Homo sapiens: one gene and its partners. The main gene of each other region encodes a partner of the protein of the gene in region 2 in a complex. Each region holds a gene or a part of one and is shown on either strand. Other genes may lie near its edges. The genes, in order: TIMM21, TIMM50 and TIMM23.

What was found.
Region 1: TIMM50 (region 2) and TIMM21 share a complex: the UniProt entries of both Homo sapiens proteins name them as parts of the TIM23 complex.
Region 3: TIMM50 (region 2) and TIMM23 share a complex: the UniProt entries of both Homo sapiens proteins name them as parts of the TIM23 complex.

What each region holds. Positions count from the first base shown.
Region 1 is NC_000018.10:74,140,388-74,153,233, reverse strand, and holds the start of TIMM21 (mitochondrial import inner membrane translocase subunit Tim21 precursor), read right to left. Parts: upstream 4,712-12,846; 5' UTR 4,426-4,711; coding exon 4,125-4,425; intron 1-4,124. Other genes in the region: FBXO15 (F-box only protein 15), read left to right, coding at 5,449-5,564. UniProt on the Homo sapiens protein: Participates in the translocation of transit peptide-containing proteins across the mitochondrial inner membrane.
Region 2 is NC_000019.10:39,489,216-39,497,671, reverse strand, and holds the end of TIMM50 (mitochondrial import inner membrane translocase subunit TIM50), read right to left. Parts: intron 7,954-8,456; coding exon 7,852-7,953; 3' UTR 3,893-7,851; downstream 1-3,892. UniProt on the Homo sapiens protein: Essential component of the TIM23 complex, a complex that mediates the translocation of transit peptide-containing proteins across the mitochondrial inner membrane. Has some phosphatase activity in vitro; however such activity may not be relevant in vivo.
Region 3 is NC_000010.11:45,966,694-45,978,528, reverse strand, and holds the start of TIMM23 (mitochondrial import inner membrane translocase subunit Tim23), read right to left. Parts: upstream 6,041-11,835; 5' UTR 5,905-6,040; coding exon 5,799-5,904; intron 3,076-5,798; coding exon 3,017-3,075; intron 1-3,016. UniProt on the Homo sapiens protein: Essential component of the TIM23 complex, a complex that mediates the translocation of transit peptide-containing proteins across the mitochondrial inner membrane.

The DNA of each region.
Region 1 (12,846 bases), on a different chromosome or scaffold from region 2:
TTTCTGTTTGTTACTTTATAGCTGTCTCCAATGGAAGCTGCTCACTGTCTAACTTTCTGAACCCTATCAGACCTAATACTTGTATGCAAAAAACCCTCATGCCATTTATTTGCTTCCACAATTCTCTACCCCTCCTATAGTGGGTGCTGTGGTATGGGGCTCCCAGCTGCAGGGAGCACTGGTAGCGGACAGTTGTCAGCTGAGCTCCTCTCTGGGCATTCCATCATAAGAGAGCTTCCTCACTTAGGTCACGGCACTTCCCTGGACCAGCCCATATTCAATGCCTGGTTGATGCAGAAGCATAAGACTCAGCCCCCATATTAGGTAGGACAGTGACTGGCCAGCTCAGCTCCAGAAGTCCCCAGAGCAGCAGCTGAGGCCCCAACTGCAAATGCACTTCGGCCTCTCCCTCTGCCCAGTCCTGCTTCCCTCATCCCTCAAGACGTATTCTGAGAGCACTCCCTGATAAACCTTACGCAAATCCCACTTCCCTGGGAAGCCAACCTACAACGGGTGCTACCAGGAGTGGTAAGCAGCTCTCAATTTGGATTTTGGAGCTGGCTTGCCGGCCACTGGCTGGCAATGAGGACCCTGTCCCTGGTGGTAGGGGGGTACTGACAGCACCTGTCATAGAGCTGTAGTGCAGCTGATGCAGCTCTCACCAATGGGGACCTGGGATGGAATGCTGGCGGAAGGGAATGTACTGGCTGATGTGTTATTCTGGGAGTTTAGGAGGAATCAGCAATTTTAAGGACTTATATCAGACGGCTGTGGCTGGGGCCATGGAGAGGGATGGTGAGATGAAGTGTGTAACTAATCACCAGTGAAGGTGAGTGCCAAGGGCAGGAGCCTCCTCCCCGGCAGAACAAGACTCAAATTGCACCCAGAGGATAGAAAATGCGTGGGTGAGGTCTGGGGCGGAAGGGATTCAGGGAGTTTGGCATTTCAAGCCCATGAGACCTCCCACACCAAGGTCAGGGTCCTGATTTGGGAGGAAAGGCAACCTAAAGCTGGGTAGGGGGCCCTTGAGGTCAATGTTGTAAAAAATCTTGAATCCCAATTCTCCTGACCCCTCTAGCCCTGAAGCAGCAGCTCAGTGTCTGGTAAAGGTTGGCACTTCCTCCACCTTGGAAACTGGGCGAGGGGTGGGTGGGGGTTTCTGCCTAGCAAGATACGTGCTGCTCTCAGGAGGGCTCTCCACCTCCCCTCCTGGCCAAGTTACAACACGACTGGGCATGAGAAGGGTGAGAAGAACAATACTCGGAAGGAGCTGGAGGTCCCCCCGGGGGGGGGGGGAACATAGACACCACTGCTTCTTAAGGGTGGTGTGTCAAGGGCACAGAACACAAAACCAGCTGAGAGTTGATCAGCATGGGGCACGCTCCTGTGATGAATTTAGCAACCAGGCAAGCACCCTGGGAACTGATATGCAGCTGGCTAGGTCTGCTCCTGGAAACTTCGAGACAGTGATGGTCCACATTAAGTAAAAGTGACAGAACAGCCATGGCAAACTGGACGAAAGGCTCAACAGCCTCCAAGAATGGGGATGCTACCATAGATATAAGATATAAAGCCCGAAAACCCACCAGCTGACTATGTTCTTAGGAGGGACAGGAGGACACTGTGTACCAAAGCCACAAGGAAGCCACAGTTACATCTTTATAGAGCAGGATGCCCTGACAGAAATGGAGATGAAAGAATTATGAAGCAGAGACCAGGCTGGGGTGTTAAACAGAAGCCAAGGTGGGTGCAACCATCATAACTAATGGCAAGGCTGGAGTGGCAGTCGGGAGTGTCTGACCTACAGAAAGCAACAGAGTTGATGACTAGAACACAGTGTTTCCAAAGGGAAGACACAAGGGCAGCGGACAAGGCTACTTCTGAATTACACAGTCATGAGAAATTAACTACAGATGATTCCTGAGGCTGAAGGCAGCTGCTCTAATGCAAAGTCCTGAACATTGCCCCAGTTTCTGGACCTGAACCAGTTTTCAGACCTGGAACGCATTTACTGAAGGAAAGCGTATGTAACTGACTCCCCCCGTCCTTCACCAAAAGGACCTACAGTTATCAACTTGGACATAGTCTGTGCTGACAGTGATACCCAAGGACCCAAAGAGTCATGATGACCCCCTGACCGCCCTCCATCACCGGATGTAAGAAGCTCACAGGTGGGTCCAGGGACTTACCTGGCAATAATTTCTGTGATTTCCAAATGTATAAATCAAGGGGATGTACTGAGTAACTGGCAACAATAACTCCCACTTTAGTTCCTTTGGAAGTGGGTTAAGAGCCATCGCAGTGGGAAAAGTCAAATGGAAGCCCCTGAAGCTGCCCTTTCGGTGACCAAGATAGGAAATTAAAAATGATATCACATCTATGGGGAATGGCAGAGTATTCTTAGAGACCTTAGATACAGGCATGGCGATCCCCATCACGGTCCCTTGTAATTTACCAGTCTTCCTTTACAAAACACAAATAGGTGCTGGAGAATGACAGTGGTTAACTGCAAACTCAACCAAGTGGCAGCCGGGGTACACATGTAATACCACAAATGGTAACTTTACAGGGGAATGCATTAACACAATCTCATGGTATTGGCCATTGCTTTGAAGAACGCCTTCTATTCAGAAGCAGCAGCAGTAGTCTGTAGTAACATGAAACAGATAATAACAGTGTATGTTTATGATCCTGCCCAGGATTTGCTAATTCTCTCACCCTCTATCATAACAGTCTTAAGGGACTGAAACCTTCTGGACCTGGGCTGTCTAATACAGTAGCCACTTGCCACTCATGGCTATTTCAGTTCAATTTTAAATTAATTAAAATTAAATCAATTCAGTTCTTCAGTCACAAGTTTTAGCAACATTTCAAGTGCTCAAAATAGCTACAAGTGGCCAGGAACTACCCAAATGGACAGCACAGATATAGGACATTTCTATGCAGAAAGTTTTATTTGAATAATGCTGTTCTGGACATTCAGGAGAATATCACATTTGTCTACTATATTTATGCCATCATGTTAGAGCCCATAAGTAACAAGTGGCAAGTGTGTTAGAAGGCTTGGTCAGAGAAGCTGCAAGTGTGAGAGGTGGGTCCAACAAAGATGCAGAGGCTCATCAACACATGAGCCGACCTCGTGGGGCTACACTGGGGCGTGCCAAGACATGCCCTCCCAAGTAAAAGACAATTGTACCCTATACCTCCTACCACAATGCTTCATAGGCCTGTTTGAATTCTGGACGCAGCATATTCCATATTTGGGAATGTTGCTCCCATCAATTCACTCAGCCACAAGGACTGTCACGTCTGAATGGGGTGCAGATGAGGGAAGGGGTCCCTAAGCAGGCCTGGTGTGCAGTGCAAGCATGAGCACTGTTGCCTGAGCCAGATGACCTGATGCACATGCTGTTTGCCACTTCTATGCCTTTCACCTCTGCATACAGGTTGTTCCTTCGTGCTGAACTAGTATGAATGAAAAGCTAGGTTTTTGGCATAGTCAGCAGACTCTAAAACAATTGGTATGATCCAATTTTTTGGGTTAAAAATTATTAAAAGGTATGTGTATGAAAGTGCAAAATGTTAAAAATAGTCATCTTCGTGTGGTATAATCATGGCGGTCTAAATTGCTTTGTCTTTTTTTTTCCTACAAATCACATGCGAAATGAAGACATTAAAAAAAAATCTTAAAATATCTGTGAATACATCTCTGACTTTCCCTGACAACTTACATTCCATCCTCCCTATTTTATGTTTTTCTATTACTGCAGGTAACATGTGAAAGTTTTCCCTACCAGTTATGAGTCAATAATCTCTCTCTCTCTCTTTTTATCCTATCCAATTACTCTTTATTATATGTAACAGAGCCAATATAACTTGAGAAAAATTTCCCAAACATAATGAAAAAAAGTTATATCAAATTCAAGATCAACTTTCACATCTGAGTTCCAATCTGTGAAGAAAACTGTAGATCTATATGTTCTAGTTCTAAATTATGTTTAAACGGTTTTTAAAAATTCATGTGAATTGCTTTTTCACCTTTAGCAGTGAACTTGGTATAAAAGGGCATTGGCAGCTCTTGTCATGTCTGTTGAAAGCCCAATCATTAAAGTACTCCTTTTTACCTTTTTGTGATGTTGGGACGGCGGTTCCCCCTCTCTGACTCCTGTGCACAGACACTTGTTTGCTGCCATCCTCCTTTGCTTTTCGGGGGCTCGGTCCCTGCGTCCAGATGGTTTTCTGGGTGACTCCAAGAATACATCTAGGTCGCAGCGTTTTCTTTTGATATTGAAGCCCACATCTCAAACTGGGCTCAGTCTTCAAGCACGCTTTGTTAAGCACGATGTATGGCAAAAGCAATCGCTTTGCCGAGGACCTGTGCAGCTTCTCCGTATACTGTACGGCTCGTAGAAAAGTACAAATCATGTTCACGGAAAATCGTTCCGCTTAGGGACGATGCTAACTACAATTAGGAAAGCTTTAGGGTTCACTACACATGCGGCCGGACACGTACTCAAGCCTATACGTTTACATTACATGGGGTGTTAGGCAAAAACGTCAGTTTCCGCAGCGTAAATGAAAACGAAAAGTCTCCAGGGAGAACCTGATGTCTACCTTCCCTTCTGTCTTCTTTCCATTTTAATTAACAGGCTCTGATCACCTTCTGGGCTGACATTCACAGTGTCCCCGCCATGCCTTCGCAAAGTCACCTGGGAAACCCCCGTCTTCCTGGGAATAGTAGTTTGAAAACCTCGCTCTTAACTGGGATACGGCAAAGAGGCGCGCAAAAGAGACTACATCTCCCACAATTCAAGGCGGCCAGAGCACGGCGCAGGTCCTTCCCGCGCCCCCAGACGCCTCCGCGCCCAGCGTCGGCGCAGACGCTGCGCGTCCCTGGAGCGGCGGAAAGTGGGGTGTTGGTGGGGGAATTGGTACCACCCACCCTACGTGGTTCAGGCGGGACTTGCAAAAGCCAAATTAGCAGTTACAATCTACGTGTTTTCCTGATCCTTATAGAGAGGACTGTGCACAGTGGGAAATACCCCCTTGGACTGTGGTCTTGCCAATTCCGCGTGGGCAAATGATTTAGTTTTTGCGTTTTACTGTGTTTTCAGAAAAACTGGACAATAAAGAGTCAGCAAGTGGGGATGAACGAGGCCGCTGCAAAGCAGGCACCGGTTTCCTAAATGGTTAAGCCGCGAACTTGGCTTGGCGCCCTAGGCGGCAGAATGTTAGGGGTGGGTAAGGAAGCCGAGGCCCGGAAGTTTCTAGAAGCCCGCTCTGTGAGCGGGTGTCTGGCGCGGTGCCGTCTGCGCAAGGGTGGGCATACCGTTACTTTTGCTCACGCGCGCATGCGCATAAGGGGTGTGGCGACGTGCGGGCGTGGGGGCGGTGCGTGCACTCTTCGTTTCAGCCCTGGCGCGGTCCTGTGGTGAACTCCTTGTCTCTATGGCGACTGGACGCGGTCGGATCTTGCAGCAGCACTGGCTCGGCCTCCAGACGCTGCGCGGGCCCAGCAGGGGCGGTGGCGCGGCCCGGGGGCGCGCCAGGGCCTTTGGGTGCAGGTGACTGTAGGGCCTGCGGGTGGGGTCCCCTGGCGGGAAGCCCGTCACTGCGCGGCCCCGCTCTCTTCACCGTGTATTTTATTCGTCCAGCTTGGCGCAAGGCCCGTGGCCGTCTTCAACGTGAGAAGGGTATGGAAGAACGACCGGAGGAAATCCTTTCTACCCTGCAACGTGGGGTACCCTAAGTTATGACACAAATAGAGTAGCCTCTCGGGGAAATATTTTTTCTTGCGGCGCCTGTGGCCGGGGATGCGCGCACCTGCCAGGACAGGTGCAGGTCCAAGAGGTCGTTTCTCCGGGATGCGTGCCCTAAATTCACGTGTGCTCCGCCCCTGCCTTCGTATTTTCGCTCTTCTGTAACCAAGAATCTCCCTTCGTGTTTTTCATGACCTTACAACTTAGGGAAGTAGAGTCTGTTCATCAAAACCTTATCAGTTGACACCCTCATCCCCCAAGCAGATACCTCGGGCAGGCAGGTTGGTCTGGCGGGTGGGGGGCAGCACTTTCTGCACCTCCAACGTCAAGGCTAAGTTGCCATCTACATTGCCAGGTCTTGCTCATCTGCTTTCCAGAAGCATCTTCAGCGTGAAGAAGTAAAATGAGCCAGTGCATCAGAAGTATCAGCATGCATAATGGTACCTTATGAAATCCCTCTCATTATATCGTGAGCTGTTCCCTAGCTGTGTACCCATCACTGCAGTTAGTTTACAGATGGAGGGATAATGCCAAGAATGGTTTACATTCTTGAGGATTATCTTTCTGCTTGTAAGACTCCTTGATTTATAAATAGGGAAAGTCATGCATATTTTGCCTTCTAATAAACCAATGGTCTATGTTTAAGCACACAAAGGGAGTCTATTACATACTAGTTGAACTACTTGTTTTTTCCCCCTGAATCTCCAGAACTATGTCCTGTGTCCTCTCTAGGTCTCCATTACTTCCACTTACCTGTTTTCAGAAGCCCAGCCCTGTTGCTTAGTGCTGTGATAATAGTTCTTAATTGAATACCTATAATGCTAGACATACCACAAGCCTTGTCACAAATAGAATGGTGACAATGCCTGCAAAAATTCTTTTATGTAGGAGAAAAAGCAGGAATTTAAATAGGAAACTTGAACTTTTAATCAATTTGCTGCTATTACTAAAATTAGTCTTTACATAGTGCTCTATTAGGGGGAAGCAGAATGATTTTTATATGATGAATCTTTTATCCTTTGTAAGTTGAGTGAACTTCCTGGATTGATATAATTAGAGGGCCTGTCATTATGCCTGGCATGGGAACCTGCATTTCAAGCTGATTTGGAAATGTATGCATTATTTTTGGTAAAGAAAAGTCCGCTGCTAAAAATAGAATGATTGACTATGGTCAAAGCAGGTGGTTATTTTAATATATCGCTGTGGAAAATTAGATGTTGTTAAGGAATCAGTGTTCCCTTTTAACACAAAATGTGAATATGTATAAATATCACAAACTGTAAGAAGTGTAGCAGAAAGCGTATTAAGTTGGCTTAATTTGTACCTGCTGTAATTTATTTGATTTGCCAGATATTTAAAATGAAGCACAGTCATTAGGTTTTTAAAATATTGGACTTATTGAAAGCTATCAGACAAAAACCTGTCACTTGAAAAAAAGTGTTTTCAAACTAAATTTATCTTGCTAAATGTATCAGTGTATGTCTACACTTAACCTTGTAGACGTATAGATTCGCATAAAAACATAAATAGAACTTGCTGATTTGTTAATTATGTGGACCTTAAAAATGTGCAATTGGGGCCGGGTGCAGTGGCTCACGCCTGTGATCCCAGCACTTTGGGAGGCGGAGGCGGGCAGATCTGGAGGTGAGGAGATCGAGACCATCCTGGCTAACACTGTGAAACCCCGTCTCTACTAAAAATACAAAAAAATTAGCCCGGCATGGTGGCGGGCGCCTGTAGGCTCAGGTACTCAGGAGGCTGAGGCAGGAGAATGGCGTGAACCCAGGAGGCGGAGCTTGCAGTGAGCCGAGATAGCGCCACTGCACTCCAGCCTGGGCGACAGAGCCAGACTCTGTCGCAAAAAAAAAAAAAAAAAAAAAGTGCAGTTGGTTTATTTTATGGATAAATAGAAATGTGTTTCCAATAGTGTTAAAAGGTACACTGATAAGATGTATGGTCTCATGTAAGACATGGTACAGAGAGCTCTGACAGGACATTAAGGAGATGGGCGTCTCAGAGACTGTCTTTGCTTCTAGCTTGGGACCTTAAGTTTCTTTAGTTGCCTTGTTAGAGCCTTAGCCTTGTAAACTGAAATGAGGGACTCTATGAGATCCATTTTAATTGTGAAAAAACAAAACAGCAAGAAATAAGCTTTGACGTTTTAAAAGTGTGAAAACATGTTTGTAATAAAATAGCCTTCATATTCCAATTAAATAAAGGATGAAATGTCTTAAAGCACTTACACATTACCTTGTGCAGAGTATATGATTAAGAAGTATTTGTAGAATTGAACTAACTAAGCCCTGTTAAATGTTTTAGCCAAAGATAGAGGCATATCCATTCGTTACTGAATTAGGGTTTCAGATTAGGGAAAAGCATTTGGTACTTAAAAAAAATAACTAGTACCAAACAGGATTTATTTGCTTAATCGTTATTTAAAACTATCTTTGAGTGGGGAGAGTTACAGCATGACTTTGAGGAACTTACTAAGATCATTTTATTTACATATATTTTATATGCATATATGTTTACAAAACAGGTGACTTTATTTCACTGGTGTTTTCACAGTAATCTTTCATAAATTCGGGACACACAAGTTAAGGTTTTCAGTAAGAACTTGGTGGTGGATTAAGCCAGTATGTATTCTTGAAACATCTAAGCACCCTGGCGCTGTGCTTCTCAAACGAGTAGTTGTAGTGGGTGGGGAACACATAGAGCATCTTCTTTGTCTGCAAAATCAACACAAAGGCTTTGGGGAAAATGTTAAATAATTTAACTGGTAAATAATATAATACATTTTTATGATAGGACAAAGACAGATTATTTAGTAGAATGCAGTATTTGCTTTAATTTTTAAGATCAATTGGGAGACTCCTAAGAAATTTTGAGTTTGCTGCAGACTGTACCCCCAGATTTCGGGGGACCTGGTTTCAGTTTCTTTGCAAGAGTTCTGTTGCTAGGAATGCCTTTGAGAACCACTGCTCCAGTCTCAAGGATTGTGCTGTCAAACTGTGATTCCCTGGCCTTCTTTTGCATGTGACTCTTAGGTTTGAAATTAAAACAACACCCCCACCCCCCAACTTATTACAGATTCAATATGCTAAGAAAAATTAGAACATACATGGAGTTATGCCCCCTAAATCGTCCCCATTTAAAAAGACCTTCACCAACAGATTTTGTAATCCTATGAATCAGATCTGTTAACTGTTAAACCTTGGTGTCTCTAGATCTCTTTTCTTTGTATGCATATATTTACTTTTCCTCTTAGAGAAATAGAAAAATAAGTTTATGTATTAGGTTGGTGCAAAAGTAATTGTGGTTTTTGTTACTGAAAGTAATGGCAAAAGCCGCAATTACTTTAGCACCAACCTAGTAGTATATACTGATATAACCTGCTTTCTCAGTTATACTGTTAGTGATTCAGCGATATTTATTGAATGCTGCTCGCATGCCAGGCATATTGTGGGTGCTGAACGATCAGCAGTGAACAAACCCATGCAGTATAACTGCCCATGTCATTCCAGCGATAGTAAGCAAGACAGGCAGGTTAAATGTATAGTGTTGGATGGTGATGTGTGCTAAGGAGAGAAACAGAGAAAGGACACAAAGTGCATGTGTGTGTGGCAGAGGGGACTGGATTGCAGTTTAAATATAACAGCCAAGGAAGGTCTCAGTGAGATGGTGACATTGTAGTAAATGGCTGAAGAAAGTGAGGGAGCAAGCCATATAGACACCTGGAGGCCATCAGGGACCTGTTTCTAATTCAAACACTTAACCTGGGTTGAAAAATCTATATTTTAATTGACTAGACATTGTTAACTCTATGGAGACCATGCAATTTAACCAATCTCTATACCGTTTTTAGTATTTTTTTCCCCCAGTGCAGACAACTCTGAGATGGACATTCTTGAGTGAACTATCTGTGCACATTTCTAGAAGTGGAATTCCTGGCTTAAAAGAGCATATGTGCTTTTTAAGGATCCTGGATTCCAATATCAGATTTGGCTTTCCATAACGTTTGTACCACTGTATCTTGTCTTACGGGCAGTAAATGAGGATGCCTGTTTCTTTGTAACATAGCCAGCATGAATCATCATCATTTATTTGGTATTTGCCAATTGCTAGATTAAAATTGATCCATCAGATGAATTTACTTTTCTTTGGTTCTCTTGGAAAGGCCTAAGGTAACAGTTTTTATTTTTCTGGCTTCTTATTGAGGAAATAAACAATGACAAAAAGCTGTTACTGATTCAGTAAGGTATTTATTTAATATCTTAAATAAAATTATATTTGATGAACTACAATAATATTTATGTTTAAAGTATATATAGAATTATTCATATGATGCTTAGGGTATGTGTGGACTCCGATTCTAGGTACAGCCAACCCCCACACTCCCATAGGCTTAAGGGTTACAGGTTTGGAGCTCCTGATAGGAATTGTTATTGTTTGATGAAGGAATGATAGAAATTCCCTTTATTTGAAGCTTAAGTGTTAGAATCCTTTATCAATTGTAGATATTTTATCTTTGAATATGTAATATAAGTCAATACAGACTTTACAACAATAATAACCATTTAAAAATAAGTCATGCTTTTAAATAATTTTAGAATGTATTACAAATTTGTTTACTGTGTTGACTATTGACAGTAAACAAAGTGTATTATACCTTCTAAAGTTATTTATGTCCTTCTGGAACACCAGGATGTGACTTTCTTTAGATATAGGGTCTCTGCAGGTATAATTAGTTAAGATGAGGTCATACTGGATGAGGGAGGGTCCTAAGTGCAATATGAATGATATCCTTATAAGAAGAGGCACAGAGACAGATATGCCTAGAGGGAAGATTGCTCTGTGAAGATGGGGGCAGAGATTAGAGTTATGCTGACACAAACTAAGGGACACCAAGGATTTCTGGCAACCACCAGAAAAAGGAATGATCCTCTCTAGAGCCTTCAGAGGGAGCACGGCCCTGTTGACAACTTGGGTTTTGGACATCTGGCTACTGAGACATAATACATTTCTGTTGTTCTGAGTCACCCAGTTTGTGAAGGTAGTCTTAGGAGACGAATGCAATTAGGAAATGATATTTTACTTATGATTACTATGTTAGGACCATGTTAATGGAGCCTAAGCTTTTCTCCTGTGGAAATCTGTGTTTAAACAAAATTTCTAACAGAAGTACAAAAATATATAACAGGTAGAATTATCTGATTAAAGGAGGAGAGGGTATTGCAAAAATGTCCCAATTAGCATTTCTTCCTGTCCTTTCTCCCTGTCTTCCTGCCCTGCAGAGCACAGATTGAAAACCATTGGCTAGAAAGTCATATAAGACCAAAAGTATATTAAGCACCTTTTACTGAAGCTGGGATGGAAAGGCATGTGGAGCCAGCATTTTTTTTTCCTCGGTGCATTTTTACTCTTACAGGATCTGGAAAAGTTTACCTTATGCAACTTCTTTGTTGAGATGCCAGTGGAGCAGCTGATCACTAATATTTGTGGAGGGCCTACCCTGTACCAGCTACTGTGCTTTTTTCTAGAGAGAAAAATTCACAAAGGGAAGAGGAATTTACTCTGTAGCTGCTTGGAAGCATGTGGAGACTTGTGCCTGGGAAGCAGGGCAGCCAGGTGCCAGTGGGTGATTTGAGTGCGTGCTGCATATCATGATGCTGTCTTGCGGTAGGCTCCAGGCTACACTGTCACCTGGCCAGCTGATGCCTAGGGCAAGGGCTCCTTTTTCACCACTTGTGTCATCTAATAGGTTGTGCTCAGAGTTGAGGGCCATCCTCTGTTAAGACCAGTTGTGTGTGGATTTCATACTTCAGCTTTCAGGGGGGTTGGTTCATTACTTTTTCTTCCAAGTTCTTAAGGCATCTCTTTTTTTGCTCCCAATTGTTGCCCTCCTTTATGAATGTTGTTTCAACTATATCTGGGGAATTGGCCTGGTGTGAAAAACTGAGGGTGGTTAAACTGTCAGTGCACAAAGTACACATTCAAAGCAATGATGTTGGTGAACTGAGCGTATACATAATGTACTCTCTAGGATTTAGCCACTTCTTAAATAGCACATCAGGAAGGAGGTGCGCCAATATCCAATACCTGTGTGTTGTATGTTGCTTAAAGCAGAAGCTTCCAAACCTTTCCTAGAGAAATAGTGTAACCATTCATGGCTCTCCGGGTGTGCTGCTGCCTAGACATGGAGGCTGTGAGCTGTATGATTTTCTGGTGTTTCAGATTCCCTCAAGGTGCTGCTGAGTACTACTGGTTTTGAGGACTGATCTTAATAAAATTTACTTTAGGAACCTCTGAAAAAGACTCACTGCATAAAAATATTATATGCTATTTCATTGAATCTAAAAAACCATTCATTCTAAGATGCACTACTGTTTTCTGTACCACTAAAATAAAAAGATGGCCAGTGAAAATATATTGCATTGAATGGGAGAGGTTAAAATGTAAAAGTTTGTGGATGAGTATTTGGTAGTTTGTCTATGACTGCAAAAGCTAGAGTTGGAACCCTCAAAGATCAGAAAAGTTGTAGATTGTGTTTTATGTTGACAGTTCTAGTTTACTAATAGTAAGTTTTTTAAAAAAAACTTTAATGGTTTCTGTTTTATCCAAATTGGCTAATCAGTACACTAACTGTATCCTTTTTGTTTCCATTAAATGTATTTGGTAACACCTCTTTGACATGTTGAAAGCCTACAGTGAGAGTGTATATTTCTAAACCTTTGGGTGAAAGCACATCAGAGTAAGTACGGTCTTGAGGTTTCCTTACCAGGACACTAAAGGTTTCACTGCCTCTTCCTCCCTTCTCCCTGCCTTTCTTCCTTCCTTACCATCAAGGTCTCACTGTCTCTTCCTCCCTTCTCCCTGCCTTTCTTCCTTCCTTACCATCAAGGTCTCACTGTCTCTTCCTCCCTTCTCCCTGCCTTTCTTCCTTGCTTACCATCAAGGTTTCACTGTCTCTTCCTCCCTTCTCCCTGCCTTTCTTCCTTCCTTCCATCTTTTCTTCTTCCCTTCCTTTTTTTCTTTGCAGAAATTAAGTTTTTCAGTGAGTAATCTTTGGAGTTTATGAATCCTTTGG
Region 2 (8,456 bases):
ACAGGTTCAATTTATATGTCTTTTTCCAGAGAAGTAAGATATAGTAACCAACGAAGCCTAGCCCAGCAGAGCCAGGCATACAGTAGGCGCTCTGTTTTTTGTTGTTGCTGTTGTTGTTTTTTTCAGAAGAAGAAGTTTTGCTCTTGTTGCCCAGGCTGGAGTGCAGTGGTGCGATCTTGGCTCACTGCAACCTCCACCTCCCGGGTTCAAGCGATTCTGCTGCCTCAGCCTCCAGAGTAGCTGGGATTACAGGCACCCACCAACACACTCGGCTAATTTTTTATATTTTTAGTAGAGACGGGGTTTCACCATGTTGGCCAGGCTGGTCTCGAACTCCTGACCTTCAAGTGGTCCACCCACCTCGGCTTCCCAAATTGCTGGGATTACAAGCATGAGCCACTAATCCCTGCGCAGTTAATTTTTTAATGAATGAAAGAAGACCAGGCTGGGCACAGCGGCTCACGCCTATAATCCCAGTACTTTCCGAGGCTGAGGCAGGGGACTGCTTGAGGCCAGGAATTTGAGACCAGCCTGGGCAACACAGCAAGACACACTTTTCTACAAAAAAAAAGAAAAGGAGGAGGAGGAGGAGAAAAAAACAGCCTAAAGATTCTTCTCTTAATTCTGACAACAGTGGCGTTTGAGCAAGGCAGCGCCATGGGTCAGATTGGGCAGAACATCCCAGGCTCCTTTTCCCTGTATTTGTCTTTTCCACTCCCTTATTTTTTTTTAATTTATTATTATTGTTTGAGATGGAGTTTTATTCTTTGCCCAAGCTGGAGTGCAGCGGCTCCATCTCCACTCACTGCAACCTCCGCCTTCCAGTTTCAAGCGATTCTCCTGCCTCAGCCTCCCGAGTAGCTGGGATTACAGGTGCGCACCACCATGCCTCGCTAATTTTTGTATTTTTAGTAGAGACAGGGTTTCACCATCTTGGCCAGGCTGGTCTTCAACTCCTGACCTCGTGATCCGCCCACCTCGGCCTCCCAAAGTGCTGGGATTACAGGCGTGACCCAACGTGCCCGGCTCCACTCCCTTCTTTAATTCCTTTTTCACCATTCAGACTTCACCTCCTCCAGGCAGCACTACCTAACACTCCCCAGAAGCATCAAGCACCTCCTCTGAGCTCCCACATCCCCCTATGATTCTTTTATTCTGCCCGACCCCTCTGTCTGTGCCTCCCTCAGCCTTGACCATTCTGGCCTATGAGGTCTTTATTTTTTTGAGATGGGGTCTCTGTTGCCCAGGCTGCGGTGCAGTGGCATTATCCTAGCTTACTGCAGCCTCGACTTCCCGGGCTTAAATGATCCTCCCACCTCAGCCTCCCAAGTAGCTAGGATTACAAGCATGAGCCACCACACCTGGCTAATTTATTATTTTTGGTAGAGATGGGGTCTCCCTATGTTGCCCAGGCTGAACTCCTGGGCAAAAGCGATCCTCCCACCTCGGCCTTCCAAAGTGCTGAGATTACAGGCATGAGCCTCCATGCCTGGCCCTGTGGGGTTTATCTAAGCACAAATCAGACCATTTCCTTCACTTGCATTAGACTTTTCTGTAGCTCCCCAGTGCCTTCTAAATATGTAAGCTTCTAAGGCTGACATTTGAGACCCTCCTTCCACATCCCCCCGAGGTCAGACAAGTTATGTGGCCCCAAGGAGTAAAGCCAGACCTTGTAAACCAAAGTCACCTGGAGGCAAATTAGGTCTAATACTGGGTTAGGTGAGGGAATAGGCTTCCCATCACAGAATATATTTTAACAGAATTTGGGCAACCAGCTATGGAAGGAAGCAAATTCCTGCCCTGGATGATCATTGGGGGGAACAGATTCCAGGTCTGAGATATCTCAGAATGTTTGTTTTTGTTTTGTTTTGTTTTGTTTGGGGTTTTTTTGTTTTTGTTTTGTTTTGTTTTTTTGAGACGGAGTCTCGCTCTGTCACCCAGGCTGCAGTGCAGTGGCTCAATCTCGGCTCACTGCAATCTCCGCCTCCCGGGTTCAAGCGATTCTCCTGCCTCAGCCTCCCATTTAGCTAGGATTATGGGCGCCCACCACCACGCCTGGCCTGTTTGTTTTTTTTTTTTTCCTAGAGATAGAGTCTCACTATGTTACCTAGGCTGGTCTTGAACTCCTGGCCTCGAGTGATGCTCCTGTCTCAGCCTCCTAAAGTGCTGGAATTACAGGCGTGAGCCACTGAGCCTGGCTCTAAAATTTTAAAGATTATAAAAATTGCCAGCCTTTGTGAAGGTTTGTGGCAGGCACGATGGCATTTCTTGTGGATTTTCTTGTGGTGTGTGTGCGTGTGTCGTGTCGTGTACTTTAAGGGATTTCTGAGCATCTTTCTGGCTATTCACAACTTTTCTTTATATGTTGACTGTAGTCACCATAGAAGGCCATGCTGGCCAGGCACAGTGGCTCACACCTGTAATCCCAGTACTTTGGGAGGCTGAGGCGGGCAGATCACTTGAGGTCAGGAGTTCGAGACCAGCCTGGCCAACATGATGAAACCCCATCTCTACTAAAAATACAAAACTTAGCCGGGCATAGTGGTGGGCGCCTGTAGTCCCAGCTACTGGGGAGGCTGAGGCAGGAGAATCGCTTGAATCTTGGAGGTGGAGGTTGCAGTAAGCCAAGATCACACCACTGTACTCCAGCCTGGACAACAGAGCAAGACTGTCTCAAAAAAAAAAAAAAAAAATAGGCCATGCTAAGGTCACATTTAAGCAAAGGCCTAAAGGAGTAAGTTGTGTAGTCTCTAGGGAAAAACACTTCTGGCAGAGCGAACAGCAATTGCGGAGGCCTTGCGGTAAGCATGAGGCCCTGAGTGTGCCTCAGGCACACTCAGCTATCCCAGGGCTTCCCTCCTCACTTCATCCCATCTCTGCTCAGATGCGCCTTCCCAAGAGGCCTCCCGACCATCCCATCAGGTCTAAACCAGTCCTCTGAGTCCCCAGATCACTGCTGCTCCTTGCTATACTTTTTCTTTATGCATTTATTACCCTAGGAAGTTATCTGATCATTGTTTGTCTCCTCCATGAGAACACTGAACATCAGCTCATGACAGCAGAGCTTTGGTTTTTTGGTTTTTTTGAGACAGAGTCTCACTCTGTCACCTGGGCTGGAGTGCAGTGTTGCGATCTCGGCTCACTGCAACCTCCGCCTCCTGGGTTCAAGCGATTCTCCTGCCTCAGCCTCCGAGTGACTGGGATTACAGGCGCCCACCACTACGCCCAGCCACTCTTTGGTATTTTTAGTAGAGGCGGGGTTTCACCAAGTTGGCCAGGCTGGTCTTGAACTCCTGGCCTCGTGATTCGCCCACCTTGGCCTCCCAAAGTGCTGGGATGACAGCTGTGAGCCACCGTGCCCGGCCTGAAACCTCATCTCTCTTAAAAAAAAAAAATGCAAAAAATTAGCTTGGCATGTTGGCATGTGCCTGTAGTCTCAGTTACTTGGGAGGCTGAGGTGGGAGGATCACGAGGGCCCAGGAGGTCGAGGCTGCAGTGAGTGGTGACAGCGCCACTGCACTCCAGTGTGAGCAAGAGTGAGACACTGTCTCAAAACAAAACAAAAAGCCAGGCGCGGTGGCTCACGCCTGTAATCCCAGCACTTTGGGAGGCCGAGGCAGGTGGATCATGAGGTCAGAAGTTCAAGACCAGCCTGACCAACGGGGTGAAACCCCATCTCTACTAAAAATACAAAAATTAGGCCGGGCACAGTGGCTCACACCTGTAATCCCCATACTTTGGAAGTCTGAGGCGGGCAGATCGCCTCAGGTCAGGAGTTCGAGACCAGCCTGGCCAACATGGTGAAACTGTCTCTACTAAAAATACAAAAATTAACTGAGTGTGGTGGCTTTCATGCGCGTCCGTGTGAAGAGACCACCAAACAGGCTTTGTGTGAGCAATAAAGCTGTTTATTTCACCTGGGTGCAGGTGGGCTGAGTCCGAAAAGAGTCAGCGAAGGGAGATAGGGGTGGGGCTGTTTTATAGTATTTGGGAAGGTAATGGAAAATTACAGTCAAAGGGCGGGCAGGAGTGGGGGGTCGCAAGGTGCTCAGTGGGGGTGCTTCTGAGCCAGGAGAAGGAAATTTGCAGGGTTAATCACTCAGTTAAGGTGGGGCAGGAACAAATCACAATGGTGGAATGTCATCAGTTAAGGCGGGGCAGGGCCTTTTCACTTCTTTTGTGATTCTTCAGTTACTTCAGGCCATCTGGGTGTATATGTGCAAGGCACAGGGGATGCGATGGCTTGGCTTGGGCTCAGAGGCCTGACAGTGGCACACGCCTGTAATCCCAGCTACTTGGGAGCCTGAGGCAGGAGAATCACTTGAACCCAGGAGGTGCAGGGTGCAGTGAGCCGAGATCGCCCCACTGCACTCCAGCCTGGGCAACAGAGACTCCATCTCAAAAAAACAAAAAAAAAAGCACAGGTCCCCTCCCTCAGTCCTGCAGACTTCCTCAAGCTGGGAAGGACCAAGGATTTTGGGAAATAACTCCACCGGCTTACAGACAGTGCACCCCAGGACAAAGAGTCATGGTGTAAATTTTAATTATCCTTTGTAGAGGCTTCAAAAAAAAAAAAATCTAGAGTGCAGAGGTTCAGTCTGGTCCACACAGTTCTGAATGCCTTTTAATTATCATCACACACACCAGAGAAGGTCATCTTAGAATATTTAATCAGTTAGCACTAGATGAAGGCTGGAGTAGGAGAGACTGGGATAGTGGGGGGCAATGTGGGGATGGAGGCAGGGCGAGGGAGATAAAGTCAAACTGGTTTTTTTTTTGTTTTTTTTTTTTTTTTTTTTTGGAGACAGAGCCTTACTCTGTCGCCCAGGCTGGAGTGCAATGGTGTGATCTCAGCTCACTGCAACCTCTGCCTCCTGGGTTTAATCGATTCTCCTGCCTCAGCCTCCCAAGTAGCTGGGATTACAGGCACCCACCACCATGCCCAGCTAATTTATTTGTATTTTTTTAGTAGAGACAGGGTTTCACCATGTTGGCCAGGCTGGTCTCGAACTCCTGACCTCAGGTGATCCACCCGCCTCGGTCTCCCAAAGTGCTGGGATTATAGGGGTGAGCCACCGTGCCCAGCTAAGATATTTCAATCTGTGAATAACCCATATGGCCTGGTAACAGCAAGCACCTGGGAATATATACATATAACCCACATACGGACTGTCCCGTTCACTCCTCACAACCACTCTGCTAACATACTACCATCACCCCATTTTAGAGATGAGGAAACTGAGGCAGAGGTGCCTTGCCTAAGGTTTACATAGTTCCATTTGAGTGCCTACATGGGAGTGCTTCATTTGGTCCCCAAAGCTAGCCTGAGACAAGAACTTTCTTCTCCCCCCCCCGCAAGAGACAGGCTCTTCCCATGTTGCCCAGGCTGCTCTCCAACTCCTGGCCTCAGGCGATCCTCCCACCTCGGCCTCCTGAAGTGTTGGGATGACAGCCATGAGCCACTGTGCCTGCCCAGTTATTATTTTATAAATGTAGAAACCGAGGCACTGAGAGGTAAAGTAACTTGCACAGGATCACAAGCCAGCCGAGAAGTGGTAGAGCTTGGATTTGAACTTACACAATCTGGGACTCATACTCTTAATACACAGTGGTACTGTCAATACAGGAGACACATGTGGCTATTTAATTAAAAGTAGTTGGGCAGAGTGGCTCACTCCTATAATCTCAGCATTTGGGGAGGCCAAGGCAGGAAGATTGTTTGAGCCCAGAAGTTCAACACTGCAGTGAGCTATAGTTACACCACTGTGCTCCAGCCTGGGCGACACAGCGAGACCCTGACTCCAAAAAAAAATCTTAAGGTTTTTTTTTTTTTTTTTTTTTTTTTGAGACAGGGTCTCGCTCTGTTGCCCAGGCTAGAATTTAGCGGCACGATCACAGATCATCACAGCCACGCACGACCTCCTTGGCTCAAGGGATTCCTCCCACCTCAGCCTCTCACGTAGCTGGGACTACAGGTATGCATAACCTCGCTGGGCTCGTTACTTTGTTTTTTTTTTAGAGGCAGGATTTCACCATGTTGCCCAGGGTGGTCTCGTACTCCTGGATTCAAGCAATCCTCCTGCTTCGGCCTCCCAAAGTGTCAGGATTACAGGCGTGAGCCACTGTGCCCAGTCTCAAACAAAATTAAAAATTCAGTTTCTCAGTCACACTAGCCACATTTCAAGTGCTCAGAAACTTTATGTGGGGCCAGGCATGGTGGCTCATGCCTGCAATCCCAGCACTTTGGGAGGCCGAGGCGGGCGGATCACGAGGTCAGGAGTTCGAGACCAGCCTAACCAACATGGTGAAACCCTGTCTCTACTAAAAAAATACAAAAATTAGCCGGGCGTGGTGGTGTGCGCCTGTAATCTCAGCTACTTGGGAGGTTGAGGCGGGAGCATTGCTTGAACCCGGGAGGCGGAGGATGTGGTGAGCCGACGTCGTGCCATTGCACTCCAGCCTGGGCAATAAGAGCGAAACTCCGTCTCAAAAAAAAAAAACAAAGGTTTATGTGGCCACTGGCTACTGTACTGGACAGTACAGACCTAGAACATGAACCAAACATCACAGAAAGTTCCAGTGGAGAACACTGCTACATATCTGCCTGTTTTAGTTAGAAGCCAACATTTTATTTTTATTTTATTTTATTTTTTGAGATGGAGTTTCGCTGCTGTTGCCCAGGCTGGAGTGCAATGGTGCGATCTCGGCTCACCACAACCTCCGCCTCCCAGGTTCAAGCAATTCTCCTGCCTCAGCCTCCTGAGTAGCTGGGATCACAGGCATGCTCCACCACGCCCAGCTAATTTTGTATTTTTAGTAGAGATGGGGTTTCTCCATGTTGAGGCTGGTCTTGAACTCCTGACCTCAGGTGATCCACCCACCTCAGCCTCCCAAAGTGCTGGGATTACAGGCGTGAGCCACTGCGCCCCGCTAGGAGCCAACATTTTAAAATAGGGAGATTTAATATAAAAATCCCTATTTTAGCTGGGCACAGTAGCTCACACCTGGAATCCTAGCGCTTTGGGAGGCCAAAGCAGGAAGATTGCTTAAGACTAGGAGTTTGAGACCAGCTTGGGCACCAAGACCCCATCTCTACAAAAAAAAAATTTGTTTAAATTAGCTGGGTATGGTAGCACGCACCTGTAGTCCCCAGGAGGGTACTCAGGAGGCTGAGGCAGGAGGGTCACTTGGAGATCACTTGAGCCGGGAGGTCAAGGCTGTTGTAAGCTAAGATCACATCAATGCACTCCAGCCTGGGCAACAGTGAGACCCTGTCTCAAAAAAAAAAAAAAAATATTCCCAAGTTCTTGCTTCTTTTGAACAACTGGCGTGTCAAGCAACTCCAGGCCCCCTTTACCCCAGGGCCACACTGGCTGGAGCCAACCAGCAGCTGGCCTGTTGAGAGGGGTAATCTCTGGTCCACCAGAGGCCCACTAGGCCCATAACACATTCTCTCCACAGTAGCCTGGCAGCTACCTGTCTTTAAAGCCAAGTGCCATCCTCTCTTCCCTTCTCCACAGATGAGGAGTCTGTGGTCAGAGGGAGATGTATTTTTCACAGATCACGCAACACACAGGAAGACACAGCGAGGGTTTTTAGATTCCGAGACCAGGGTGAAAAATCTGCTCTGATCCAACAAAGCACCCCCACTGTGCTTGGCAGCCGATCAGCCACTGTGGGACGATGACCCAAGAGTCCCGGACCTCACCCTGATGCCCCCATCTGGAGACTCTCGGGACACAGCAGGTGTGGCGTCTGGGATGTACTTTATTGGACAAGTGGTGGCCCAAGTCTTGGTCTGGAAGCACTGGGGCCCTGGACCCAGGCACTGAGTTTGAGGAGGCCCAGAGTTCAGGGCTGTTTGGAGCGAGGCCACAAGCGGCTGGTGAGGGAGCCAAGGAAGAGGTTCTGCTTGTTGGACTTGGAGAGCTCGGCCAGGCGCTGCTGCTCCTCCTGGGGTAGGGGGACAGTTGGAGGAGAGGGTCAGCGCAAGGTGGACAGAGCCTCCTCCCAGATGCCCAGGTCCCCAGGCCTCAGCCCAGGGACCACCTTTCCTTCTGACTTCTGCCAAGTCCAGACCCCTTTCCCCAAACCCTGGGGCCCCCAGCCCAGACACAAGGGACCCTAGACCCCAGTCCCCCCACCCCAGACACTAGGAAGAGCCAGCTCTGAGCCGCAGGAGCCTAGGCTTCAATGTTTGGGGGACGACAGACTCCAATACTAGGCACTCGAGGTATTCAGGCCTGAACTGCAGTAGGTTCTCAGGCCCCAGACTGTCATAATCTCCTTCCCCAGATCCCAGGGACCCCTCCCCTGAGCCTGAGATCCTATCGCAGACCCTGTTACCCCAAGGTGAATGCTGGTGAGATCCCAGGTCCAAACCCCATGGCCCTCCTCACCAGACTGCATCATCCTGCCCCTGGGCCCTCTGAGCCCCATGACCCCTCTCTGGATGC
Region 3 (11,835 bases), on a different chromosome or scaffold from region 2:
TCTGTATATCTTCATAGAGAAATGTCTACTCAAATCCTTTGCCCATTTTGTAATTATTTTTTATTAATGTTTCAAGAGTTAAAAAAATTAAATATTCTAGATATAAATTCCTTATCAGATACATAATATGCAAATATTTTCTCTCAGTCTGTGGATTGTCTTTTCCCAATTTTTTTCCTTTTGAGACAAAGTCTCTCTCTGTCACCCAGGCTGGAGTTAAGTGGTTTGATTATGCTGAGACTTGACCTGCTGGACTCAAGTGATCCTCCCACCTCAGCCTCCCTAGTAGCTGGGACTACAGGTGCACACCACCACACCCGGCTAATTTTTGTATTTTTTTGGAGAGATGGGATCTTCTTATGTTGGCCAGGCAGGTCTCAAACTCCTGGGCTCAAGTGATCCTCCCGCCTCAGCCTCTTAAAAGTGTTGGGAGTATAGGCACGAGCCACTGCGCCAGGACTTTTTCCATTCTTTATTTATTTTTTTATTTTTTTTTTGAGACCGAGTCTTACTCTGTTGCCCAGGCTGAAGTGCGGGTGGCGCGATCTTGGCTCACCGCAACCTCTGCCTCCCAGGTTCAAGTGATTCTCCTGCCTCAGCCTCCCAAGTAGCTGGGATTACAGGCGCCCAGCACCACGCCTGGCTAATTTTTGTTTTTTAGTAGAGATGGGGTTTCACCATGTTGGCCAGGCTGGTCTCGAACTCCTGACCTCAGGTGATCTACCCACCTCAGCCTCCCAAAGTGCTGGGATTACAGGTATGAGCCACTGCACCTGGCCTCCATTCTTGTTGGTATTGTCTAAACCACAAAATTTTTAAATTCTGATTAAATACAATTTATCAACTTTCTTTTTACCACTTGTGCTTTTGGTGTCACATCCAAGAAATCACAGTCTAATCCAAAGTCACAACTACTTGTGCCCATGATTTCTTCTAAGAGTTTGACTGCTTTAGTTTACATTTAAGTCTTTAATCCATTTGGTGGTAACATTTTGCATATGGTGCAGGGTTAGGGTTCAACTTCATTCTTATGCATATGGATTCCAGTTGTCCTAACGTCTCCCCTGACTTAACTATCTTGGCATCCTTGCTGAAAAGCAAGTGACTGCATATATTGTAAGGTCTTTCTTCTGGACTCTGTATTTCATTAACTATGGATTTATTCTTATGTTACTATCATGATGTGGCTCTGTAGAAAGTTTTGAAATTGGCAAGTTCAAGTCCTCCAATCTATTTTCTCAAGGTCATTGGCCATTCTATGTCCCCTGAATTTCCATATGAATTTTAGGATAAAAGCTTGTCAATTTCTGCAAAAAAGCCAGCTGGGATTTTGACAGGCACTGCACTAAATCTGTTGGTTAATTTGGTGAGCACTGCCATTTTAATATTAAAATTTTCAGGATCATAGCATGTGTCTTTCCACTTAATTTCAATAATGTTTTATAGTTTTCAGAATATGTTTTGCACCTGGTCCATTTATTTCTAAGTATTTGCTTTTTGATGTTATTGGTAATCAACTGTTTTTTGTAATTTCATTTTTGTAGTGTTCATTGCAACTGTCTAGAAATATATTTGATTTATGTATATTGAACTTGTATTCTGCAACTTGCTGAACTCGATCATTAGTTTTAACAGATTTTTGTGATTTCCCTTGTGATTTTCTATAGATAAGATCATGTCATTTGTAAACAGATAGTTTAACTTCTTTCTCAACTTGAATGCCATTTAACGTACTTGACTAATTGCCCTGGCCAGACAATGCTGAATATAAATGAGAGTAAATATACTTATTTTGTTCCTGATCTTAGGGAGAAGGCATTCAGTCTTTCACCATTAAATTATGTTAGCTTTGGATATTCTGTAGATGGCATTTAACAGGCTGAAGTCCCTTTTATGTCTAGTTTTATTTATTTATTTAGAGATAGGGTCTTACTCTGTTGCCCAGGCTGGAGTGTAGTGGGGTGTTCTCAGCTCACTGCAACCTTTGTCTCCAGGGTTCAAGCGATTCTCGTGCCTCAGCCTCTCAAGCAGCTGGGATTACAGGTAGGCACCACCACGCCTGGCTAATTTTTGTATTTTTAGTAGAAACAGCGTTTTGCTATGTTGGCCAGGCTGGTCTCAAACTCCTGGCCTCAAGTGATCTGCCCACCTCAGCTTCCCAGAGTGCTGGGATTACAGGTGTGAATCACTGCGCCCAGCCTAGTTTGTTTTTATAATCATTAAAGGGGGTGTTGGATGTTGTCAAATGATTTTTGTGAATCTATTGAGATAAGCATGTGGTCTTTGTACTATATTCTTTCCTTGATTGCTTTATTATAAATTGATATGGCACAATACATTAATTTTCAGATGTTAAATCAACCTTGCTTTTCTAATATACCCAAGATATATTTCCTAATATATCTTGGATTCAAAAAGATACTCTTTGAAACTTTTGATGCTTAGTCAAAAAAACCCTGATATTGTAAACTGAGCTTTAAAACACACTTTGCCTGTAATCCCAGCACTTTGGGAGCCTGGCCAACATGGTGAAACCCCGTCTCTATTGAAAACACAAGAATTAGCCAGGCGTGGTGGTGGGCGCCTGTAGTCCCAGCTACTTGGGAGGCTGAGGCAGGAGGATGGCCTGAATTTGGGAGGCTGAGGTTGCAGTGAGCAGAGATCGCGCTACTGCACTCCAGCCTGGAGGACAAAAGCAAAACTCTGGCTCAAAAACAAACAAACAAACAAACAAAAAACCCCACACACTTTGTAACTAGGCATCCCAATACTTTTATTGGGGTGCTTTCAAAAATTAATTCTGCTCTGGTTTTAAAAAATAAGCTTTTGAAGGGAGTTAACTGGTTTCAGAGAGATGCAGGCCAAGCTCCTGGTGTTTGTGAGGAAAAAAGGGTGAATGGAGACCAGAGACTTACTGCCTCCAAAAGTGTATGTCATAGTTCAAGTCAGCATAGCACTTGGCGTTTTTTTTAAAATGGTAAAATAATGCACCAAACTAGTAAAATCTTAATCTTACCTGCACGAGGTATCGTGGATCCACATTTAAATAAGGAGACAGAGGGTTCATACCAGTTACTAGAGAGAAAACAAAATGTCACATTGCAACAAAATTCTTTAAGTTAATCCAGTTAGAGTTAATCCAGCTCCTGACTGTTACATGTGTTTGCAATTTTTATAGGCTCACTGAAGGCGGAAAATTTTTTCCCATTTTATCCTCCCTATCTGTCAGTTTGGGGGCTGACTCATCCTGAGACCCTCAATCCCAAACCAGGTCTTCCACTGGTGGCTCAGGCTTTTACACCAATAAGATAATTGCAGTGTCATAGATCTGATTTTTGAACTTACAGGAAGTGTAGTCCAGGCCATTTACAAAGCTAATTTCTTTCACTTTACTCCAAGAATGCTTGGTGACTATGTAAATTACAAAATAAGACTGAAAAAAGACTAATCAATTCCATGGGAAAAACAGTGGTTGGGTTGGGTTTTCTGACTGTGTACATGTTGTATCTAACTATTTCAAGGCAGTTCCTTCACATATTACTATTAACGATTGATTTACTGTGGCAAGGTTGAGAATCCTTGGGTCATTACCACAGGTATGTGGGTCTGTGCAAAAGAAAACACAAACTTTGAGAGGGCCAGACCTGAATTCACTAACATTGAAAACAGTAAAACCTATCATCTTTGGATCCTTCTGTATCTCAGCAGTTATTTACAAACCTATGCATCACCCATGCCTCTATCTTTTCATCAATTAGGAGTCCTGCTTGTTCTATTTTTAATATCTATTTTGAATTGTGTTACTTATCTTCTCTATTGCTACCATCCTAGTCCAACCATCATATCTCACAGCAACAATTTCCTAACTCCTTGCTTTCTCTTACCCCTTCAATTCACTGTCTACATAGCAACTACAGTGATTTGTCTTAAGAAAATCGAAACTCCTTACCATAACTTACAAAATCCTACATTAGCTGTCATTCCCTACCTCTCTGATTTCACAAACTTCAATGGATCCAACTCCCTTGTAACTACGAAGACAGACTGGCCTAAGAGCTGTTCCTTAAACCTGCCAAATTTGTTTTGTTTCAGGACATTTGCACTAGCTATTTTCCTGGATACTTGCCTCCCAAGCATTTGTACTGTATTTGGGTCACAGCTCAAATGTCAACTCCCTTGAGATGTTTTCCCTAACCGGCTCTAAAATGGCATCCTGCTTCCATCACAATCTCAAGACTCTGCTTTATTCCCTTTACAGCACTTATCACTAACGGCAATGTTTTAATTTATGTTTGTTGGTTTACCTCAGTATTATGTAAGCTCTGTGAGCGCAAGAGTCCTCTTTTCAAAAAAAAACAAAAAAAACCCCCACAAAAACCACTATAGTCCTGCCCCCAGAAAAGTAGCTAGCACACTGTAAAAGCTCAGTAAATGGTGTTCATTCCCTGGTCCCCCAATTTACCTTCAAATCTTAATCAAATTAATTTAACAATATTGTCACATTAAGGAAGTGTATATGCCCTTTGTGCTCTGAAACTCAGAGATACTAAGATTAATATGAAACTGTGTTCTAAACAGGTAAAGTAGTAGCTCAGGCCTAGGAATCCCAGCATTTTGGGAGGCCGAGACAGGAGGATGGCCTGAGTTCGAGAGTTTGAGACCAGCTTGGACAACACAGGGAGACCCCATCTCCACAATAAGTCAAAAAAAAAAAAAAATTAGCCAGGCGTGGTGGTACGTACCTAGAGTCCCAGCTACTTAGGAGGCTTAGAGGGGAGGATTGTTTGAGCTCAGGAGTGCGAGGCTTCAGTGAACTATAATCATGCCACCGCACCCCAATATGGGTGACAGAACGAGGTCCTGACTCTAAAAACAAACAAACAAAAAAACGAAACAAAACACCATGTGTTGTAGATTCAGTTTTTTGACAAAGGTGACACCAGGGAAATGAAAGGTCTTTTATATTTTTTTGCACTACAGTCTGAACATATTTCGTTGTTGTTGTTCCTTAGTATAAAATACCTAGAGAAATATTACAAGGATTCTCTAAAAAGAAAGTACTTTCGTAAAGGCTTTATCCACGACCAACTGCCTATCTTTAGGTCCAAGTTGTATTTATCTAGTTGAACAACCACAGTTACAAAGTACCAAAGTTCTGGAAAACATTTTCACAAGACCGAGGAGAGGCAAAGGCAAGATATTTATGCCTCTGTATACCTTGATGTTGCCTATTTCCGTTTCTATAATTCTTACCTGGCTTCTTTCTTCATGTCTATATATCACCTTTAAAGTTCAGCTTACTTCCTAGCTCCTAAAGAAGGTTTCCTAGCCTGTCCCAAGTCATTTATTTCTCACTTACAAACAATATTACTGAATATTCTGCCCTGACGGCTACTTGGAGGCTCAGAATATGTCGCTGTGTACTAAAAAGTTAACTACGGGCTTGCTATTTGGAATACATTTACTCCCAAAGCTCGGCTCTACTCTTAATCAAGGGTCAATCACACGGCCCACCACACACAAAACGTAGGAGGCTTGGATATAAACCTAAGAAAACATGCATCATCTCGCGAGTCCAGGTCAATCACGGACAGCTTCCCCAGGAGATCCGTGGCCCTTTTTTAGGCCTTTCTATCTTGAAAGAGCAGCCATGCAGATACACTAACCCCACCACTGGTACTTAAGCTTGTAAATGCCAGCAAGGAAAAAAAAAACAACAACATAAAACATGGGACGCGCAACTTAGTGTAGACGCAAAAACCAGTCAGAAATAATCGCAAGCTAGGCCCCATACTTACGCGGGACGCCAGCCAAATCCGCGTGCGAGTAACCTGCTCCGCCGGCTCCGAAAAAGCCGGCCAATCCCCCTGTGGTTTTGTTGCCGCTTCCCCCGCCTCCTTCCATGGTATCGCAGCAAACCGAGTGGTTCCCGCCGCTGCCTCAAGCCTGGGTGGTCCGCTGGGCCGTTACTCCTCAATAACAGCGGGTAACCCCGCGTTGCCAGCGCCTACTTCACACGCTGACCTTCCGGGCGCCGGTTCCCGTTAAGCGCCACACTTCCGCTTTGCGGCAATGTGCGCCCCGGAAGCTGGAAGCGCCTGACGGCAGCTTTCCGGTGGTGGGAAAGTGAACGAATCCCGAATCAAAGCGGCGCATTGAGGCAGGTGGGGTGCCAGTGGAAGAGAGAAAGCAGGCGAGTGTTTACGGCCTGACTTGGGAGGCCGGCGGATCAGCAATTGCAGAAGCAGGCAGCGGCAGAGAGGGAATGGTGCAGGCAGGCGCTGAGAAGGACGCGCAGTCCATCTCTCTCAGGTTAGTGAAATGAGGCTCTCCGCCCGGGGCCGGCCCGGGGACAGTGCGCTGCTGGTCCCAGCATGAATGCGGGCCCCGGCTGTGAACCCTGCACCAAGCGACCCCGCTGGGGCGCCGCTACAACTTCGCCGGCTGCTTCGGACGCCCGGAGCTTTCCGAGCAGGCAGAGGCGCGTCCTCGACCCCAAGGACGCTCACGTGCAGTTCAGGGTCCCACCGTCCTCGCCAGCCTGCGTCCCAGGGCAGGCGGGACAGCACAGAGGCAGCGCCACCTCGCTTGGTACGTGGGAAAATAAAAATCTTTGTCCTTCGCCTCGGCCCGAACCTTCTGGTCTCAGGGACTCCAGTCACTCCTTTCTGGTCTTGTGTGCATCATCACTCTGAGGTCCACTTGCTGAGCTACCAAAGCCACTAGTGGGTGAATGGGGCCGCATTTTTCCCAGTGCGATTGATGTGAGAAACTCTGATGAGCAGTCACTCACAGGGCGGAAAATGGCAGGAGACTCCACCACCTGTTTGCTTCTTCAGGTTTGATTGAGAAATTGCCTTAGTCGTCAAGGAGATCTAATTGTGTATGTAAAACAGTAGGGCGCTTCAGCCTCTAGATAGGAAGAAAACAACTTCACTTGTGCAGATTCTGGGTCCCAGGGTGCAGAGCTATTAGTCTAAGCTGGCATTGTACCCGTCCCTGGTATACAGTGTTGAATGAGAGAAACTTGGCCTCTGCCTTCATACCTTAAAATCTATCTGGAGAGATAGACGATAGCAAAAGTTAATATAATAAAAGGTAATGGATGTTCTGATAGATGAAAGACAGATTGTTTTACCTAACTGAATTTATGGAATCGAAAATAGTCCTCCAGAAGATGAGATGCTTATTCTGAGGACTGTAGAATGAGTAGGAGTTAGATGAAGAGGAAGTAAGAAGTGTTTCAGGAGTGCAATGGAGGCCGGGCGCGGTGGTTTTGCCTGTAATCCCTGCGCTTTGGAAGGCCGGGGCGGGTGGATCACCTGAGGTCAGGAGCTCAAGACCAGCCTTACCAATATGGTGAAACCCCGTCTCTGCTAAAAACACAAAAAATTAGCCTAGCGTGGTGGCGGGCAACTGTAATCCCAGCTACTCCGGAGGCTGAGGCAGGTGAGGCAGGAGAATCACTGGCATCCGGGAGGCGGAGGTTGCAGTGAGCCGAGAGGGCACCATTGCACTCCAGCCTGGGCAACAAGAGCGAAACTCCGCCTCAAACAAAACAAAACAAAACAAAACAAAAACAGGAGTGCAATTGATATATAGAGTGAACGCAAGAGAGTGTGAGAGATGAGGCTGCAGGGTGGTACAGAAAAGTCAGATCAAATTGGATATGTAGACATTGCTAAGGATTTTGAACTCTAAGGGCATTGATAAGCTACTCAAGGGTTTTTAGTAGGGGAGTGACTTGATTAGACTTATTTATTTGTTGAAAAGTCTGTGTGGCTGGTGTGTGGAAAATAAAGAATGGATTGAAAAGGAACTCAAGTGGAGCATCAAGACTCAGTTAAGGAGTTAATCTAGGTTGGAAATAATTGTAGCTTAGGCCTGGATGCTGGCAATAGGGAAGGGGATGGATTCATGAAAGAATGGGATACTTGAGAAGAAATATTTCTGTGCTGGAGAAGTAGATTGGGGAGTTCATGGCATAAACATTATAATGGATGCTATGGGCATAGATAACATAAACATGTAGAGAAAGTAAAGGTGACCTAGGGCAGAAGCCTTAGGAACACCAAAGTTTAAGAGTAGACTGAAGAGAAGCGGCTGTAGAGGTGGGAGGAAAGCCTGGCTCGTGTTGTGTCAGACAAAGGAGAGCATTTCAAAAAGGATGCATTCATTAACAGTGTAAGAGGCTGGGCAGAGCTCGGGCAGTTCTCTGGTGAAGAGTGTACACTTAGATGTCTTCGAACTTAGGGACAGTACCAAGTAGACTTGCACTAGGCCTTGAAGGATGAGGAAGATTTGCTGTATAAATCAAGAGGAGAAAGAATTATACACGCAGAGGGAATAAGACATGCAAAAGTTGGTAAGACTGGAGCATAAGATGACAGAGGAGTGTCTGATGAGGCTGGGTGGCAGACAGGAGCTTATGAAGAAACTCAAATTCCATTTTAAGGAATTTCAACCTTATTCTGTGGTTAATGGAGAAACCACTAAAAAGCTTTTAAGCGTGGGAATACCATTTGGTTAATATTTTAGAAAAGTGGCTTTTGGACTTTCCTAACTGCAACCCACAGCATAAATTTTATCCAGTACACAGAGTAAGAAATATATGTAACCTGGCAAATAAGCCATATTTATAACTGAAATAAATGTTTCATGAAATAATACTTAATCTTTCTATGTGTGATGCATTCTTATATTGTCTGTGTTATTTCATTGAAAAATGACTGGTCATTTGTAGTTTGTAGAACACTGGATAGTCAAGGCTGTAGACAGGGAGACTAGTTGCAAGAAACAAATGGCAGTTGTCTAGTAAGCGATGTGTTTAAAGAGTATGAGGAAGGGATGGATTTAAAATTTAGGATGTAGATTTCAGAGAACTTGGTATAGGGGAGAGGGAACTGAAGGTGAACTTCAGGTATATGTTCAGGTGTACTTCAGCTTCTGTGACTGGATAGTTTGTGGTTTCATTAACCTTATTTGCATGTAAAGGAGGAGGAGTTAGTTGCAAATAGGGGTGAGGGCAGTCAGTCCTCACTGGTTGGATCTTAATTAAGATTTCTGCAGAAGAGGTACCAAATGAATACTTGGGGCTGTATTTCGCATGTTTAAATGTTTTCTGTATACCTGGCACAGGACACCAATTAACAGAATGTTCAAAGACTATATTTGTATCAAAAGCCCATTGTTTGAATTTTTGGGATTCCTTTAGGAACTTGGTATTTAAATTTTTATATATAATTATCTTAGGACAAGTAGGCGGGGTAGCGAAATGGATATTTATTCAGTATCTTTAAATTTTATATTCTTTATCTTCCTGGACATATTTCTTGTATTGACTGAAATCGCTAATTTTGCTGGGCATGCACCTGTAGTCCCAGCTACTTGGGAGGCTAAGGCAAGAGGATCACTTGAGCCCGGGAGTTCCCGTCCAGCCTGAGCAACATAGCGAGACCCCACTTCTGAAAAAAGAAAAAAAAAATCTGCAAACCTGCATATTGGCAGAACTCAGCATGTTATTCACATTGTGATGACGCAGGTTTATCCAGATGTGTTGCTATAGACTTTTTGTGAAAGTGGAATGTTCCTTTGACATGCAGGTGAATTTTATTGCATTTTGTGCCTTTTGGCTGTATCTATAGCTATTAATTGAATGACTTGCTGATTAAAATATACTGGGTACTGAATAATGTTGCTGATGAGAGTAAATGTAAATGGTGTGAAGTCAAAGTTGGAGAATTATTGATCTCAGTGGAAAAAAAAAAGACTGGGTGGAAATGTCGAGAGATAACATATTGAGTGCTTTGTGAGGCTGAACACAATATTTTCTCTAATTTTTGCTTTGTAATTGATCCACATAACCCTTAGAAGTAGGTGTTGTTAGCTTCATTTTCTGGGTGAGGAAATAAAGGCTTAACGAAGTGATATTGCAAAGAGCAGTAAGCAGTCCTTTCTCTGAGGCCCTAAGAAGGACTGATCAATGTTTTATTAGCAGAAGATACTGGTTCCTTACCTCTTGCTTTTCCTCCTTCATCCCTTCCCCAGGCTTCAGGAAGCCTGAAACTGGAGAGAGAACACATTCTCAGGGTCAGGGCTACGGGAGAGAGCTCTCTTCTTCTTTGCCATCACTGGAACACTCCTGGTTTTTCATGAAATGATGTGTGCGGTCTTTAGGTTCTTTAGACTTATCACGGGAGTACATGCTTCGTGTGTGTTATAGGAACCTAGTCATTGCATCTTAACATTAATCCTTACATTTATGGAAAAAAGATGTTTTAACTTCTAAACCAACTCAAAAAATGAATGTTTTGGCATATTACTGGTTTGTAATTTGAGGATTTTTTTTTTAGTTTTTGAGACGGAGTCTCACACTGTCGCCCAGGCTGGAGTGCAGTGGCGCGATCTCCGCTCACTGCAAGCTCCACCTCCCGGGTTCACGCCATTCTCCTGCCTCAGCCTCCCGAGTAGCTGGGACTACAGGCGCCCGCCACCACGTCTGGCTAATTTTTTGTATCTTTAGTAGAGACGGGGTTTCACCGTGTTAGCCAATCTCCTGACCTTGTGATCTGCCTGCCTCGGCCTCCCAAAGTGTTGGGATTACAGGCGTAAGCCACTGTGCCCGGCCCAATTTGAGGATTTTCTAAACTATACTTGCTGTATTTGATATAAAGAAAATAAATAGAGAATACAGAACTGTAGAAAAAATTTCAGAATCAAATGGTTTATCCTCTTACTCCCTCTGACTGAAGCTCATTTTTTCTCTGAAGCCTGATCTGCTGCAGAAATGCTAAATAAAATCGTGGAAGTAATGGTGTTTAACAATAAGAAATCACTATGCGTGATTACTTTTTTGTGATAGAAACTATTTTTGAAACATTAATCAAAGATTTTTACTAGCTGGATTATAAGTATTTTGTGGAAGGTAAAGATTATATAGCAATTGAATATTTTTCTGGTATAAAATTCTCCCCATCTGAAATGTATTTCGATTATGCCATTATTTCAATGAAAAATAAACCATTGATTTTCGTATATTTGGCCTGCATCTGTTTTGCTCCATATGGTGTTTGAGGAGAGGTAGGTAAATAAGAAAGATCCTGTGACTTAGGATGCTAAGATTCTTACATTGCAATTTAGTGAGTATCTCAAATCTTAAACATTTGCGAATGTTTAAGATTTTATTTCTGATACTAAAATATGATGTACATTTAATCCCTATTCAGTATGTTAAATTTTGACAGCATACTTATTTCTAATGATTATATAAAATGTGGCTTGTATTTATTTATATTTAATCTCCCTCTCCTGAGCTATCAATTCTACTTTTGCTACTGTCTGCTGGTGTGTTGGGAAGGAAACCTTAGGAAGCCAGAAGTAGTGATATGGTTTTCTATCTAGTTACTTCTTTGGCATCTCAAATTTAGTATAGGCAGAATTGACCTAATCGTATTTCTTCCCTAAACACAATTCTCTTGTATTCCATATTTCTACTTAAGGCTGTCATCACTTTTCAAGTCTCTCAAGCTCAAAGCTTAAAGTCACTTTTAACTTCCCCTATTATTGTGAAGTCTGTAATGACTCTCCTCACTTTTACTACTCTCACAAGGACTAGTTTATGTTCTTGGCAAGTAACTGTTCAATCTAGTGGATCATCAGAATCACTTTTGGAAAAAAAAAAAATAGATTCCAGCTCCCCTCATGCCTTCATCCTACTCACATATAGATTCTGATTCAGAAGGACTGGGGTGTGGCTGGCTTCCTGATGATCCAGATAGTTTGGGAACCACTGACCTGGACTAGTAGCTTCCTCCCTAGTTTCTGGCAATACGCTCT